Linked DNA regions of Homo sapiens: region 2 is linked to region 1. Evidence: fine-mapped expression QTL. Tissue or cell type: whole blood. Region 1 holds a variant in brackets; the other region holds the start of a gene. All regions are shown on one strand. Distances are between the middles of the regions.

Evidence for each region. PIP is the estimated chance that this variant, and not a neighbour inherited with it, causes the effect.
Region 2: SLC48A1 starts here. The variant in region 1 is fine-mapped to the expression of SLC48A1 in whole blood (TOPMed, PIP above 0.99).

What each region holds. Positions count from the first base shown.
Region 1 is chr12:47,802,424-47,810,680 of GRCh38, reverse strand. The region is part of intron 1 of HDAC7 (histone deacetylase 7); the gene reads left to right. LOC124902926 (a long non-coding RNA gene) reads right to left here. Exons shown (of 2, transcript XR_007063290.1): 1 at 8,022-8,257; 2 at 5,048-5,406. Among named protein-coding and RNA genes, the nearest start is that of HDAC7, 13 kb to the left of the region's middle. RefSeq lists an enhancer at 1,680-1,749. The variant T/C (reference allele first, on the strand shown) is at 4,458.
Region 2 is chr12:47,769,660-47,777,659 of GRCh38, reverse strand. It overlaps SLC48A1 (solute carrier family 48 member 1), which reads right to left and starts at 4,422. Exons shown (of 3, transcript NM_017842.3): 1 at 4,220-4,422. The coding sequence starts at 4,355. RefSeq lists enhancers at 3,190-3,694, 3,695-4,201 and a silencer at 3,947-4,556.

The DNA.
Region 1 (8,257 bases):
CTGTGGCAGCCCTGGGAGGTTTGCTTGTTTAGTTATACCCTGCTGGAGGCAGCTAACAGGAAACACTGTAAAGTGTTTAAATGGTACACTTTAAAATGGTAAAATGTACATTTAAAAAGGAAGGGAAATAGAAGATGAAAAAGGAATTGAGGATGGCAGGGGTGGAACACAGCACACTTTGTGGGAACAGGCTGGCATTGGGAGCATACCCTAGGGCCTCACTGTGTCTTGCATCCCCTTGTCCCCTTGGTGGTCTCACCTCAGCCACTACTAGGAGGCAGGCTGAGTAAGCAGTCCACGCCAGTGTACCGATGCTAAGCTTAGGTTCTGGAGTCCCAGCAGCTCCACATACCATCTGTGTGACCTCAGCAAGTTTCTGAACCTCTCTTAGCCTTAGTTTCCTCATTTGCAAAATGAGAATAATAACAGTATATAGGCCGGGCGCAGTGGTTCACGCCTGTAATCCCAGCACTTTGGGAGGCCAGGGTGGGTGGATTCAGTGAGTTCAGGAGTTTGAGACCAGCCTGGCCAACATAGTGAAACACCGTCTCTACCAAAATACAAAAATTAGCTGGGCATGGTGGCTTGCACCTGTAATCCCAGCTACTTGGGAGGCTGAGGCAGGAGAATCACTTGAATCCGGGAGGCAGAGGTTGCAGTCAGCTGAGATTGTGCCACTGCACTCCAGTCTGGGTGACAGAGTGAAATTCTGTCTCAAAAACAAAACAAAACAAACAAACAAAAAAACAGTATCTGCCTTACAGAGTTGTGAGGACTACTTGCAATAGTACAATTAAAATGTTTAGTGGGGGCCTGGTGTGGTGGCTCAGGCCTGTAATCCCAGTACTTTGGGAGGCAGAGGTGGGCGGATCACTTGAGGCTGGGAGTTCGAGACCAGACTAATCAACAGGGTGAAACCCCGTCTCTACTAAATATACAAAAATTAGCCAGGCATGTTGGCGCACGCCTGTAATCCCAGCTACTTAGGAGGCTGAGGCAGGAGAATCACTTGAACCCGGGAGGCAGAGGTTGAAGTGAGCCAAGATCGTGCCACTGTACTCCAGCCTGGGTGACAGAGTGGGACTCCATCTCAAAATAAATAAATAAATAAAAATCGCTTAGTGGGAGGATGTTGCCCTCCCCCCGCCAAAAATGCCTAGGATAATAGCCAGCACACAGTAAGCATTAACACATGATTGTTGATCATTATTAATATTATTAATTAATTAAAATAATATAACTATTGTTGATATTGTAACTTAAACATTTCCCTGGCAGTCTTGGGAATGGGCTGCGTGGCCTTGTGGGTGGCACAGGTGAGAAGAGTGAGGAAGGCACATCTCGCTCGGCCTGCAGCTGGGAGAGGCAGAACCAGTGGGCAAAGCAGGAGTAGGGTACACAGAGGGGCAGGGTCTGCATGAGGAGGGCCCAGGAGCTGGGGTGACAAGGAGAGCAAGGGAATGAGTGTGACACCTCAGAGGGGAGAAGGAGCCGCCCCTAGAGGCAGCCTGGGGCGGTGACTGTGCTTCCTGTTGGGGCAAACACTGGCCCTTGAGAAAGACTGGCTCACACTGGCTGCTAAAGGAGCAACTGGTCTAAGTGGGGCACCAGAGGGGTAAAGGCGAAGGGGAGAGATGAAGGCAGAAACTGGCCGACTTATCCCCATGTTACAGATAGGGCCTCAAATCTTGCCTGCTCAGGATGTTTTGCTTATGATAGGAAAGATGGTAGTTAGACATCATGGTGAACTTCCTATCTCAGGGACTGGAGATACTGGAGCAGAGGAGTGAGGATGAATGTGGAACTTATGTCTTTGAGGGCTTTTTGGAACTGAGAAATCTTAGGGTAGTGTGGACTAGGGGAGCCCACTGGCTCAGGAATTCCCTAAGTGGGCAGAGCAGTGCAGGGGCAGGCCAGGCTATAAGCTGAAGGCCATGGGTAATAGGAAGTAGATGCAGGCCCTCCAGGCCTGCCACCGCAGGAAGTAGCTATGCCCTCCCCTTCACAATGGACTTGCAGGGAAGGCTGAGTGGTGGCCCGAGAGGTCCCGGGAGTTGGACAGGGCTGGGAGGACCCCTGTTTTTCTCTGTCAGAGGACAGCAAGGGTCTCCAGAGAGTGCCAGACCCAGAAACCGACAGCCATACGCAACTCAGAATGGCCCAGCTCCCCGGCCTCAGGTTCTGCCAGGTCTTCATCCTTGAGGAGAGGCCACAGGGTGGAGCTGGGGATCTGGGGTGGGGGACAAAGAACCAGGGAGGATGCTTTCCCACCCCCAGGGAGCTCAAGCCGCTGCTGCCATGGTTACATCTGCTTCCTGTTTGATTCATCTCAAACAGCAGAAGTGGAGGTGGGGTGGGGGGGCGACACTGGCTCCCAGCTCAGGCCACTGCTGCGTGGGGCTGTTTACAACAGCCGCATGTGGGATTCCCAGAAAGAGACTCCAAACCGGACATCCTGCGGCTGCAAAATACCCAGGTGTCAAGAGCTAAAAATAGCTGCCTCAGGGCCCCAGCTGCCCTGAGGTGGCGGAGAAAGAGGCATGCTCACTGTTGCCACCCTTACATCCAGCCTCCTGTTTGGTGTGCAGGAGCTTCTCTGTCCTCTTGCCTCGGACTGATGGAGGCCTTCGTCTGGGTAGGCAGACATCCCGGCTGGCTCACCTGGCAGCTGAGCCTCTGCCCTGATGGGCAGCTGGCTCCTCTGCCTATACAGAGAAATGGTGCAGCTTGCTTTGGGACGCTAATGAGAGAGTCCTAGAGGGACTTGGGAGCTTCTAGAGAAGGGATATGGCAGGGCACTGAGAGCAGGGGAGTTGGAGCTGAGGGTCCTCTAAGACCCCAACCCATTGCCAGCCCCCTGTTTCCAGCACACAGTCCCAAATCATTGCTTGGTTTCTACAAAGTCAACAGTTGCTCCAAATGATTCTTTGAGATTGTCTTCATGGGCACCCAAAGATGACATAGCTTCTGCCCTCTCACCTGCGCAGGGCTGGGGATTGCTGCTGGCACGGGTCTCTGTGGGGCTGTGTGATTTTTTTTTTCCATCTTTCTGCATGCCCATCTAGGTCCTGCATGTGTCCTTTGCTGGCTGGCCTGTGGCGAATGGGAATGCTGGGGAGGAGGGGTGGAGTGTATTGGTTGAGAGCGTGGATTCTGAAGCCCAATTGCCTGGGCTCAAGTCCCAGCTCAACCTCTGCCACTTGTCTGTGACCTCAGACAAGTTATCTAATACTGCTGGGCCTCAGCGTACTCATTTATCTAATGGGGATAAAACAGTAAATACCTCATAGGTTTGTCATGTGGACTAGATAAGTTAGCAAATGTAGGGTACTTAGAACAACTCCTGGCACATAATAAGGTGTTCGCTTACAAAAGTTCAGGTGGAAGAGAAAGGGAAGAGAGCATAGTTGGGAGAGGCTGGGGATAAGAGATAGGGCAGGGGGCTGGGCACGGTGGCTCACGCCTGTAATCCTAACACTTTGGGAAGCCGAGGCAGGCAAATCACCTGAGGACAGGGGTTCGAGACCAGCCTGGCCAACATGGCAAAACACCGTCTCTACTAAAAATACAAAAATTAGCTGGGCTTGGTGGCTTATGCCTGTAGTCCCAGCTACTTGGGAGGCTGAGGGAGGAGAATCACTTGAATCCAGGAGGCAGAGTTTGCAGTTAGCTGAGATTGTGCCACTGCACTCCAGCCTGGGTGACAGAGCGAGACTCCATCTCAAAAAAAAAAAAGAGAGAGAGAGAGAGATGGGGCAGGGGCATGCATTCAGGAGAAAATGGTCTGTGGTAGAGGAGGGAGGAGAGTTGGGAGCAGACACTGAAACGCTAATGCCAGGAAGGAGGCTGCAGACAAGTACAGGAGGCAAACTAATACTCGCTACCACAAGGGAGCACCCACCATGTGCTGGGTGCATCACAGACAGCATTGCTAATCTCAGGTGACCTCTTTGAAGTAGGTATTCTTTTTGTTTGTTTTTGTTTTTGTTTTTGAGACGGAGTCTTGCTCTGTCGCCCAGGCTGGAGTGCAGTGGTGCAATCTCAGCTCACTGCAGCCTCCGCCTCCTGGGTTCAAGCGATTCTTGTGCCTCAGCCTCCCAAGTAGCTGGACTACATGCTCCCCGCCACCATGCCTGACTAATTTTTGTATTTTTGTTAGAGATGGGATTTCACCATGTCGGCCAAGCTGGTCTCGAACTCCTGACCTCAAGTAATCTGCCCGCCTTGGCCAGGGCAGAACTTCCCCAAAGTTCTGGGATTATAGGCGTGAGCCACCTCGCCCAGCCTGAAGTAGGTATTCTTATCTCCTGATTACAGGTGGGGCAGCTTAAGCAGGTTAAATTGTGTTTCTGGCTTGCTTTGCCAGTCACCGAGGGAGTCGGGGCTTAAACCCAGGCCCATCTGACCGCAAAGCCAATGTCCTGTGTGCTTTAGACCTTCAATTCCCTCACAGTTTG[T/C]GGCCTGCCAGACTTCATGTGGCAGGGGCTTCCAGCCCACTCTCAGCTCCCTGCTGGGTTCTGGATAAATCTGAGCAAGAAGCATTCAGTGCCAATCAATGAGCAGTATAGAGAATTTCTGGAAGGGAGACACAAGAAGCTGTTAGAAAGGGCGGCTTCCAGGGAAGTTCTAGGGAGTCTGGGATGAATGAGAAACTTATCCTAACAACTTTTGGGCTCTCTGAATTTTTTTTAGTATCTGCAAGTATTGTACTTGTTCAAATATGTTTAAGGCTGCAGGCTGTATTCTAAACTCCTTGAAAGTGAGAACCAGGTTTCACTCATATTTCCATCTTTTCAACCCCTAGATCAGTGACTTCCCAGGGAAGTAGTACCTGCATTTGGGGTTGACCTTTGGGTTTCCCCTGTACTGGTCTGGCCTGGCCTGGCTGGACCACTGGCTGGCTGGGTGGCTGTGACCTAGCCCCTTCTTTCTCTTTGCTCCTCTGTCAAATGAGAGTGTTGGTCTGAACGATCTCTAAAGCCTGGAAGAGGAGCAGATCCTCTGTGCTCAGCCCCCACTCTGTGTCAGGGAGGCCTGGCAACCACAGTGTTCTTTCTCCTGTTTATTTGTTCTTGGATCTTCCTGAAGCCATTTCACCACCAGCCTTCATCTTCTCTGCCAGCCCCATGGAGACTCAAGCTTTTTCCAGCCTATGTCAGGGAAGGAGAACCAGAGACAGCAACCTCGGGTGTGAAGGGAGTCAGCTCTGAACCCAGGACTATGGCCTTCTGCCACTGCCTGCTTTCCTCTTGCTGCTGGGGCCTAGGTCTTCTTGCTGCTGCTTCCTTTTCCGCTAATCAAGAGTCCAGGGAGGTGGGAACAGCCTCAACAAAGACTTTGAAGATGAGCGGGGAGGATCGCTTGAGCCCAGGAGCCCAGCCTGGGCAACAGGGGAAGACTTCGTCTCTACAAAAAAAAAAACAACAAAACAAAACAAAAAAAATTTAGCCAGGCATCGTGGTGCATACTGTAGTCCCAGCTACTCTGGAGGCTGAGGCAGGAGAATTGCCTGAGCCCAGGAGGTCAACGCTGCAGTGAGCCATGTTCACATCACTGCACTCCAGCCTGGGCATCAGAACAAGACCGTACCTCAAAAAAAAAAAAAAATTAAGAAAAGACACTGGAGGCATCGGGAGGGGGGCGTTCTAGGTGGCAGTGCTCCTGGGGAAGCCTTTTGTCCCACTGAAGACATGAAGCTCCTGGGAGAGCAGGTGGTCGGCAAGGCTCAGGTTTTCATCCACCTTTTGCAGATCTAGGAGGCAAAGTCATACCTGCTGGGGAGGGAGGACCAAGACTGGGGCCTGAGGCAATAAGGTAGGAGCAGTAGGGAGGTCAGTTTGTTCCAGGTGCTTAGAATTGTGTTTGTGTTTACTCTGGAGGTTGCTGAGGGCTGGGGTGCACCTATTGGAACAGGGGCTCCATAGGTTTCTGGGTAAAATCAGGTGTTCTGGTTTAAGAAGGTGACTTGGTAGGCCCACATGCCCCAGTGCCAAGTAAACTGTTCTTAAGTCTGACTGCAGTTGCCTCCAAAGAAGATAGAAAAGGGGAGTAGCCAGGATTCCAAAAAGAAGAGCTCTCCAACCTGGCAAAGAGCCCTGTGCTAGACAGTATTCCTGGTACCTTGGGTCCATTTACTTCTCTTTTTTTTTTTTTTTTCAGGCTGACCCCAAATTAGTAGTAACAGCCCTCGGAGAGAGGCAGTGATGGGAAAAGAGGTCCCACACTCAAGCCAGAACTGGGAGGCAGGATGTTCATGCTCTGGCTTCAGTTCAGCTACTGACGGGGTGCCAGTAGATACCTTTCCTCTCTCTAGGACACAAAGAGAGCTGTTCCTGGGTCTTAATCTCTGTCGCTCTGCGCTCTTCTGAACTTGATGGCCCTCAGCACGGGGCCAGGGAGCGGGGGAAAAGCAGAACTTTTTCCAGGAATTGCTATTGGAAGCAGCCCCGTTGCCAACACGCATGCACACATGCACACAGCTTTTCTGGACAGACCTTATATTATGGATTATCACCACAAAACATCCCTTTGGGGCCTGGTAGCCCACACCACAGAATTCAGGGTCATTAATTTTTCTCCTATCCAGAGAGTGCATGGTGTCCGGAATCTGTGGTTACCAGGGGAGCAAGGCACAGAGAACCTGGCTCTGCTCCCAAGCATGAATGCTGCTGACCAGCCCCTGGGTAGGGACTGGGGAGGTGGGACAGAATTCCCAGGAGGCAGGGGACTCAGCCTGACACAGTCTCTGGGAGTGCACCCTGGAGCCCAGTCCAGAAACCTCTGGGAGGACCAGGTCCTGCAGAAGAAAGAAGAGGTACTAAGAAGGCCTGGGATTGGGGGTTACCATGTCGTGGGGAGGGGAGTTTGCCTCTGAGGCCCACCACCTTGAGAAATATGCATGCTGTGTCTCAGGCAGGTTGTCAGGAGAGAGTCATTGTATTTGATTTGTCAGCTACTAACAGAGCCTGCCACGTGCCCTGCGAGGTGTTTGGTGCAGATGGGCATGGCTTCCACAGGGCACCACAGAGATCATGATGAATGAAGTGTCAAGGTGGTAGACACAGAGCGAGTGCTGTGGAAAAGGAAGAGGGGAGAGGTCAGGGAGAGCCTCCCAAGGAGATGGACTTGGGCTGGACCTCAGAGGATGGGCAGAATTTAAATAGGTAGAGCAGCATTTTCGGACCGAACTTTGTTACCCAAAGCATGGGCTGGTTTGAGGGGCAGTCGGTGGGAGTCTCCCTGTGCCCAGGCTGCCCCCTCCCCCAGCAGCGCCTGCCTGCAGGAAGTTCTCATTTCTCGGCTCTGAAGAGGAACTGTGGCTGCCTCTGAGACACAGACCCAAAGGAGCACCCCGGCAGTTTCTCAAAAAATATCCCTTCTGCCCCAAGTCTGGCCAGCAGAGCGCTTCTGTGTCCACCCAGTACCCCGTCCAGGCAGCCTCTGGGTCTCCTGGCCTCCTGTCCCCTTGACCCTGAACTGGACAGCAAGAGGGAAAGGTGTCTGTCCTGGACAGGTGGCCTCAGGACTCATCTCTGTCTTCTCCAACCCCAGCTGGCCTCCATGTCCCCTGGGGGCTTTCTGCTGCTGACCAGCTTGGGCCCTACTATAGGTTTTCTTGCTGGGCTTAGGAGCCTGAGAGAGGTAGCCATTTCCAAAAGAAAAGATTTCTATCTCAGATTATCTGGGAAAGAGGCTGAGTAGGTCCCTTCTCTGAGGAAACAGGCAGCAGGACATAGGATGGGGCAGTGGGAGGAAAAGGGTCTGCACTATGGGGTCCTTGGGCTGTGCACTCCTGACCTTATCACTTCACAGTTCCCACCAGATCTGACTTGACCTCCGGGCCATGACCCAGTCCCTCCCCCACTCTGGAAACCTCTGTGTCCCCTCCTGCTCCTTTCACTCCCACCTGGGAGGCTCTGAGCAGGCCAGGGTCCCTCTCTCCAGGCCTGCTCCTCCCTTTCTCCTCCTGTCCCCCCAGCCATCCCCCCAGCCAGGCTCTCCCACCTCTGGCCCCACCTCACCTCTTGGCCTTCTTCTTTCCCTCGGGCGATGGGAGCCTGGTTTGGCTGCCCAGGGAAGATTGTATCTGACCACAGGAGGGAGGGCTGAGGGCACTGCTGGGTGAGCTGAGGCCTCCTTAGGTTCTTGCTGTAGTCTGAGTTCAAGTCATTTAGAATGAGTGACTTGAGGAAGAGGGAGCTGGGAGCCCTTTTCACCAGCAGGGGGACTGGAGGAGTCGAATGGGGTGGGGTCTTCT
Region 2 (8,000 bases), 33 kb after region 1:
AAGGCAGGAGGAAGCTTGTCACTGTGGAGCTATGCTCTGGTTACCAGCTCAGAGGCTGTCCCAGTTTGGCTGTCCCCAGACAGTCCAGTGAGGAACAAAAACCCATGAGACTCCAAGCCAAGAAACCAGGAGCCTGGCACTGCTGTGTCCCAAAGCCTTGGTGTTTCCACATCTAAAAATGGGTGGGCCCAGGGGTCCTGCCAGTTTAGGTAACTGGGCCCAGGGTTCTACCCTAGTGAGGGTGAAGGCCTACCAAGCCTACAGCTTCCCTCAGCCCCTGCCACCGTTTGACCCCCTGAACACTCTCCCAGCTTTGCCCCTGCCCACCTCCACTCTTCCTCAGGGGGTGGGGGCCTGGAATGTGGGTCCCCCTCCTACTGAGATCAGGGTGGGCCAGGACAAGCATCTGTTCCTCCCCACCTAGTCTGGATGCTGGAGTGGGCCAGAGGTGGACAGGACAATCATCCTGCAGCTTCCTCTTACCTCCTACAAGATCTGGATTTTTATACCAGCCACCTTTCACAGAAGTCCCTCCCACTCCTCACATGTGTCCCATGTTTTCATTTGAGGGAGCTGTTTGGTTTATAAAGGGCCCTGGGAACAAGGGGTGTTGTCACTGAGCACACTCAAGGAGCAGTCTGATGGGCACCTGTCTGGAACAGGTCCCCTCGCCCTCTGTCTCCTCGTGCCACAGAGGGGTTGGGGAAGTTGAGCTCTAAGATCCTTTCCCACTCAAAGATTCTAGAAGCCAGCTTGGGAGAAAAATAAGGTCAGAACAATTCCTCTGTGACTCAGCAGTTTCTGGGTTAGGAAATGCTGAAATAGGGGCCTGTGAAGATGCCATCTCTTAGTCCACTGGCCACGATCCAGTGGTTCCCCAAAACTCCCACCCCCATGTACATGCACATACCAAAGAGGGCTGAGGGCAGGAGGGAGAGGAAGACAGCCATTTGGGGGCGTTTTGGGCCCTGTTCTTTGTTAACAACAGGCATGGTTTACCCACCTCTCACCTTCCCTCAACCTTGCTCCAGGCCCTGCACAGAGGCCTCCCCTCCAGATAAACACACATCAAGTGTGGAGGCAGGCCTGCTGCCCACGCCCTGGCTCCCACCACCCTCCTGGGAAGGGAGCTCTCCACCAGCCCTACCCAAGGGGGTCACTGAAGGAGATGGAGCCCCTCACTGGTCCCCTCCCACACATCAGGCAGGAGGCAATGTATCTCCCTAATACCCTTCCCTGGCACACTTGGGGACTCTAGGAAGCCTGGTTTATAAAACTCGGGGTGGAATGGACAGGTCCCCAATCCCACCTGGCTGCAAGCCCACACCAGACCACACCGTTGCTCCATCCTACCTGTTTCAAGGAGCAGAGCCCCTGCTTAGCCATGTGAGCTTATTGGCTCACAGCCGATAAGCTAAGGGTAAGGAAGGCATAGGGTAGGGCGGTGAAAGCATCCCCAGTGGCTGGGCTGGAGGTGAGGAGACAGGAGACACCCGGGGGATCCCACAGGGTAAATGCAGACAAGAAGGACACTGGGCCTAGGTCAGGCCCCTCTATTCCTTCCTAGGAGGAAGACAGTCCTGGAGCCCCAGGGCTCTTGCTCACAGCTCACCTGGGAAAAACATAGAGCTGTTTAGACTTCAGGAGCAACTTTTCTTTTTCTCTTTCCTTGGTCTACTAAACCCAGAGCAAGAGTTTGTGTTTTCCCCCAGGACTCCCACAGCAAAGCCAGACCAGGTAGATCCAACCCACACCTGCCCGCCTCCCCAGGAAAGCCAGTCTTGCTTCTGCCACTGCCTTTCTCCAAAGCCACTTCTTCGAAGGTACCCATCAGGATGGGAGAGGGTATCCCCACCCGTGAACACTCTGCCCACCAGACCCAGGGGCTCCATGACTCTGCTCCAGAAACTGGCACATCCAATCAGTCCTTGCCTGGTCCAACACAGGAGAAGGAGCATGCTGGGGCTACCCTTGGGTGACTCAGCAGATTCTGAGCTATAAAACGCTGAGTCAGAAGTAGGGTGCTCACACGTTAGTTAATCTGCTGACACTTTACCCCCAAAAGAGGAAGAAGGTTGACTGGCCACAGACCCTCTGAGAACTCACTCATGGTGGGGAAGGTCGGAGGCCCAGGCTTGGCAACCCCTCTCCCTGCCACCATCCACCACCACCACTACCAAGCAGTTTTGGCTCTTCCACAGCCACTGTCAAAGATCAGACCATCAGGGAGATACCAGGACCCTACTCCAGCTGGCTGCTGCCCTAGCGAGCTGCTGCCCTAGCGAGCTGCTGCCCTAGCGCCTCTCTCTGAAGGCAGCTCCACAGCTGGCCTGCCTCATAGGCCAAGGGAAGCCTGTGGGGAGGGAGAGAGGGCAGAGTTGGGTCGGAAGAAAACCCCAGGCAACTCCCTAGAGTATAAGAAAGAAGGCCTTTTCCACAGCCCTCTAGGAGGCAGCTGGAGACTCAGGGAGTGGGCAGCACTGCAAGATTTCAGATCTGGAGGGAAGTCAGATGTCTTTTGGGGACATCTCCTCCCACTCCTAATAGATGAGGAAACTGTGGCCCAGGATAGGGTCAAACGGCCAGGTAGGGTTCACCTCCACTTGTACCAGGCCAGACTCAACACAACCAGCTGAGATCCCAGGCTGGCCCTCCCTGCTCATCCTTCTCTTGCCTTCGGTCTTCGCAATGCAATCATAGGGCTCTGACGCCGCCTTCCAGAGGGGAAAGCAACAGGGCCAATAGGAAACAAAAAAGTGGCAGGGAGAAGTGAACCTTGACAAACATGGAGGGTGGCGGGGTGCAGTGGGGAAAGGAACTAGGGCTCTGTAGATAACGCGCAGAGATGGGCCAGTTGTCCTCAGGATCCCACAGGTGGTGAGGCAGCTGGGCAGGCAGAGAACACCCTAGCCAGGGTGCCCATCCCCCCTTCTTGGTGACCCAGTGCTTTGTTGGCATTGTGTAGGGTGGGGCCCTGTATGCCCCTCTTCTAAGGCATTAACCCCACCTCATGCTGCGACTCTACCCAGGGATGGCACTCAGCACTCCCTGTGGCAGTGAGTAAATTAGTTATTTTTAGTTATTCCATTTAGGGTTCTTTTGGCCGAGGATTTTAGTAATGGAATATAATCATCATATGTAAAAGTATTATACGTATTTTCTTCCCAAAGTCCTTTCCCACACATATTATTTCATGTAGCTGTGTAATCCCGGGTAAGCAATTTATTTAACTTCAGGCCTCAGTTTCCTTATCTGTAAAATGGACATAATCGTAAGGCCTACTTCATGAGACTAATGTAAGGATTAAATGAAATAAGGGAAGCAGGTTGCTTAACATAGTGCCTGACACATAGAAAGCATTTTTTAAAATGTTAGAAAGTAGAGATAATATTTTTCATCTTCATACCAATTCTATGGCGCAGAGAGGTTAAACTGCGAGCCCAAATGTGCACAACAAGGAGCACTGGTCAGCCCAGAGCCCCCATCAGCGCACCGATGCTTCCCCTTCCCTCCCAGAAGCACAGAAAGGGCGGCTGGCCTGCAGGATTTGGCAGAGCTTGGCTGAGGAGCCACAGCAGACGGGTAGCAAAAAGGCACCAACATGGGTGGAAAGAGAATGTCCAGTTTCTATGAGATCCCTAACGCCGTCCTCCCTGTGGGTCTCAGCAGAGGGCTCTGCGGGGGAGCCCTCTGGAAGGAGGGAGATGGGCTTCCCCAGCCACCCCTAGCCCTCTTCCTTTCCCACTTCTTCCCTCTCTGCCCTCACCCAGCACCCAGGGAAGGGGCGCCTGGGGGGCAGGGGATCCCTCAGAACAACCGTGTGTGTGTGCGTGTGTGTGTGTGTGTGTGTTTGGGGATAGGAGGCGACCAGCGCCGCGGGCGCGCGGAGGGGACACTGTCGTGGGGCAACTGGGCGGAGGGCGACAGGCAGTGTGCCGTGACAGATAACCCGGGCGGCGCGGCAGGTCTGTGCAGCCGGCAGTGGCGGGCCGTCGGCACCCCCAGGTGGCGCCCGGGCGGGCATCGGGTCTCAGAGGCACCCAGGAATGCCCAGGAGCCCGGGCCCGCGTGGGGCCTGCCGCCGCCAACCGCTGTTTTCGAGTAAACACTCCACCCGCTCCGCGGGGAAGCGCCGCTCGCGGGGAGCGTCCTGGAGCAGCTGACGGCGCCCGCCCCGCAGCCGCGCACCCGCCCCGCGCCGCCCAGCGTCCCGGGGTACCTGCGAGCCCTCCCATGGCCGCGGTCCCCGGCTGTCGGTAGACCACCGTCCAGACGAGGAAGATGGAGAAGCCGGCCACGGAGCTGATGCCGGAGTAGGCGGCGCGGAGGCCGAGCTGCAGCCTGGACGGGGCCATGGGGCTGCGGCGCCGGGCGGGCCGAGGGCGAGCGCGGCCGAGAGTCACAGGTGCAGGGCCCGAAGCCGCCAGCCGGAGCCGCGGGAGCCGCCAGAGCAGCCGGCGCCCCGCGCTCCGCCCCCGGCCCGCCCCCAGCGCCGCCCGCACAGCGCCCTCCCCGGCCGGAGGCCGCCCGCGCCCGGAACCGCAGACGCCACCGCCGCTTTGCGAAGCTGCCGTGTCGTTTGGGGGAATGCTGCTAAAAAGGCGGATTCCTGGGCCCATCCCCAGACCCGCCGTGTCCGGATTGTTGGACCTTGGAAGGGACCGGAAATATGCCTTTATACGAGCGAACCGCGAGGATTAAAAATCTTTACCTCTGAGTACGATGCGTATTTTCGTTTAAAATTAAAATTAAAATTTCTTGTTAAAAATTAATAGGTAAAACTTAAGAAATATTAGAGTACGCTGTGAATAGAATTCCTTCCGCCCGTCCTTCTATCAACCAGGTTCCCTCCCACCATATCGCAGAGGATTTCTCCACACACTAAAGTCTGGGAACCCCTGCGACCATCACCTTCTGACTGCAAACATTCTATACATTCTATCCTCACGCACAGCTCCCCACAAATCCCTACTTTTTTTTTTTTAAACAGAGTCTCACTCTGTTGCCCGGGCAGGAGTACAGTGGCGCCATCATAGCTCCGCATCCTCCAACACCTGGATTCAAGCAATGCTCTCACCTCAGCCTTCCAAGCAGCCAGGACTACAGGTGTGTGCCACCACGCCTGGCTAGTATTTTTTGTTATTTATTTTTTGTAGAGATAGGGTCTCGCTATATTGCCCAGGCTGGTCCCCAACTCCTGGCCTCAAGCTGTCTTCCCACCTCGGCCTCCCAAAGCGCTGGAATTACAGGCTTGAGCCACTGCAACGGACCTCACCTTTCCTTTTATCAGCACAAGCCTTATCCTCCCAAACCCCTCACCCTGACCCTCGGGATCATACCATTGTAAGGAAGAGACAGATCTGTAGCAGGAGGGCACTGAGCTCCCACGTGAGCCCAGCTTCCGGCCGGGAGCTGGAGGGAAAATCCCAGCACAATAACAAGGGCTCTGCCACAGCACTAAGGATCCACATGGGGAGGCCCATCATATACCTGCACAAAACATAACCAATACCCCTTGCATTAGTTTTTTTTGTGTGTGTGCTGCCGTAACAAATTACCACAAATTTACTGATTTAAAATAACACAAACTTATTATTATTTTACAGTTCTGTAGGTCAGGAATCCAAATAATGGTCTCACTGGGCTAAAATCAAGGGGACATCAGGGTTGCCTTGTTTCTGGAGGCTCTAGGGGAAAATCAGTTTCCTTGACTTTTTTTTTTTTTTTGAGACGGAGTCTTGCTCTGTCACCCAGGCTAGAGTGCAGTGGCGTGATCTCAGCTCACTGCAATCTCTGCCTCCTGGGTTCAGGTGATTCTCCTGCATCAGCCTCCCGAGAAGTTGGGATTACACGCTTCCACCACCACACCCAGCTAATTTTTGTATTTTTAGTAAAGATGGGGTTTCACCATGTTGGCCAGGCTGGTCTCGAACTCCTGACCTCAGGTGATCCGCCCACCTCAGCCTCCCAAAGTGCTGGGATTACAGGTGTGAGCCCACCGTGCCCGGCCGCCTTTTCCAGCTTCTAGAGTGAGGCTACCCACATGCCTTAACTCCCTCTTCCTCCTTTTCCCTTCTAAGGACCCCTGTGATTGAGGGGATAGTCCAGGATAATCTCCCCATCGCAAGATCCTTAATTTTATCACATCAGCAAAATAAATCCCTTTGCCGTGGAAGGTGACATATTCATAGGTTCTGGGATGAGGACGTGGACATCTTTGGGGGCCATTATTATCCCACCCACCACACCCCCTCTGGAACATAAACTTCATGAGCAGGGACAGTGCCAGTTTTGTTCACATCAACATCTAAAAGCATGTCTGGCATATAATGACCCCTTAATAAATGTTTGTTGAATAGGTGAGTGTGAGTGAATGAAGGTAAGAATAAAATAAAAACAAAAGCAATTATACACAAGGAATCTAGACAGGGTGTGCTTAACTGCCAAACAAGGGATGTAAACCAGTGTTAAGCACATTTGCCTCACTCTAGAATAATCTGGGAGCTTCTTTAAAAATAAAAAAATAAACCCAGCCCCACCCCTGCCTATTAAATTTTGAATCTTGGAGTGTGTATTTTAATGAGAAGTGATGTCAAGGCTGTGAGCTCAGCAGCAGCCCTCCTTTAGGAGCTGCCGGTGGAGAGTGAGTGCTGGTCCTGTGGAGGAGGGAGCAAGCCCCGTGGTCCGGAGTGCATTTCCATGGATGGCTTCAGAGCTGGCCAGGATGGACAGTACTCCAGGCAGTGGGAACCGCACGTGTGATGGCGCAGAGGGAAGAAATAAAGCGGCCGCTTTGGGAAACTGTAAGTCGTTTGTGGCTGGAATGTCAAGTTTGAAGGTAGAGTAGCGGGTTTGGAGATTAGAAAGGTTCTGAACATAAAGGGCCTTGCATGCTCTGTTAAGAAGGCTGTCCCCCTCCCCTTGGGGCTGGGGGAGAAAACTCACAATTCTGTGTTTTAGAACTATGGCCAGAGTAATAGAGTGAAGGCGAACTGCCTGTGAAACACTAGAAGCAGAGAGATGAGTTGGACAAATTTCACCCCACAGTGCTTTAATTACCAGGTCTTTAAAATGGAGACTGCAGTAACACCTACTTCAAAGTGTTGTGATGAGGAGTGCCTGGAAGAGTGCCTAGCACATGGTAGATACTCAATAAATGTCAGGAAGTAGAATTAGTAGCAGCAGAAGGCTGCCATGGCAAGAGAGGATGAGGGGCTTCAGAGCTGGTCCAGGCAGAAGCAGAGAGAATGGAAGAGACGAAACTGCTTCAAGAGCTATTTCAGCTATCTGAACCTAAAGGTCAGGGGAGAATTCATTAGCTGAGCAGACAGAAGGAGGAGAGCAAAAATATTATGAGTGGACATATTAGGAGTATGGGAGAGCAGTGAGCAAGCTTGCTGTGCTGGAAAGTGAGATTGCGCAAGAAAAGAAAGAGAAATAATTATGTAACAGTAGTACTAGACCAGGTTGTACAAGGCTAAGGCCAGGCTTAAACATTTTTTAAATTGTGGAAACAATGAAGAGCTATTGCAGAGCATTAGACTCAGGTGGGGTCAGAGGCCTAGCTTCACCATTTGCTGTGACCCTGGGCAAGTGCCCCTAACTCACAGATGTCCAATCCAATTGACTTTCTGCCTGGAAGAAAATATTCCATATCTGCACCCTCCATAATGGTGGCCACTAATCACAGGTGGCTATTGAATACTTGATATGTGACTAGTGTGACTGAAGAACTGAATTTTTAATTGTATTTAATTTAAATTAATTTAAATTTAATGTATTTAAGTTTAGTGTATTTAATTTAAATTAATTTAAATTTAATTTAATTAATTTAAGTAGCTGCACATGACTAGTGGCTACTGTGTTAGCACAGCTAGACCCAGGACTCCTGTCCCTCCATCTGTACACAGGGAATGATGATGAAACATCACAGGCTTGTTACAAAGATCGAGATATATTGAGATAATACACTCAAAGTGCTCAACACAGTAATTCAACAA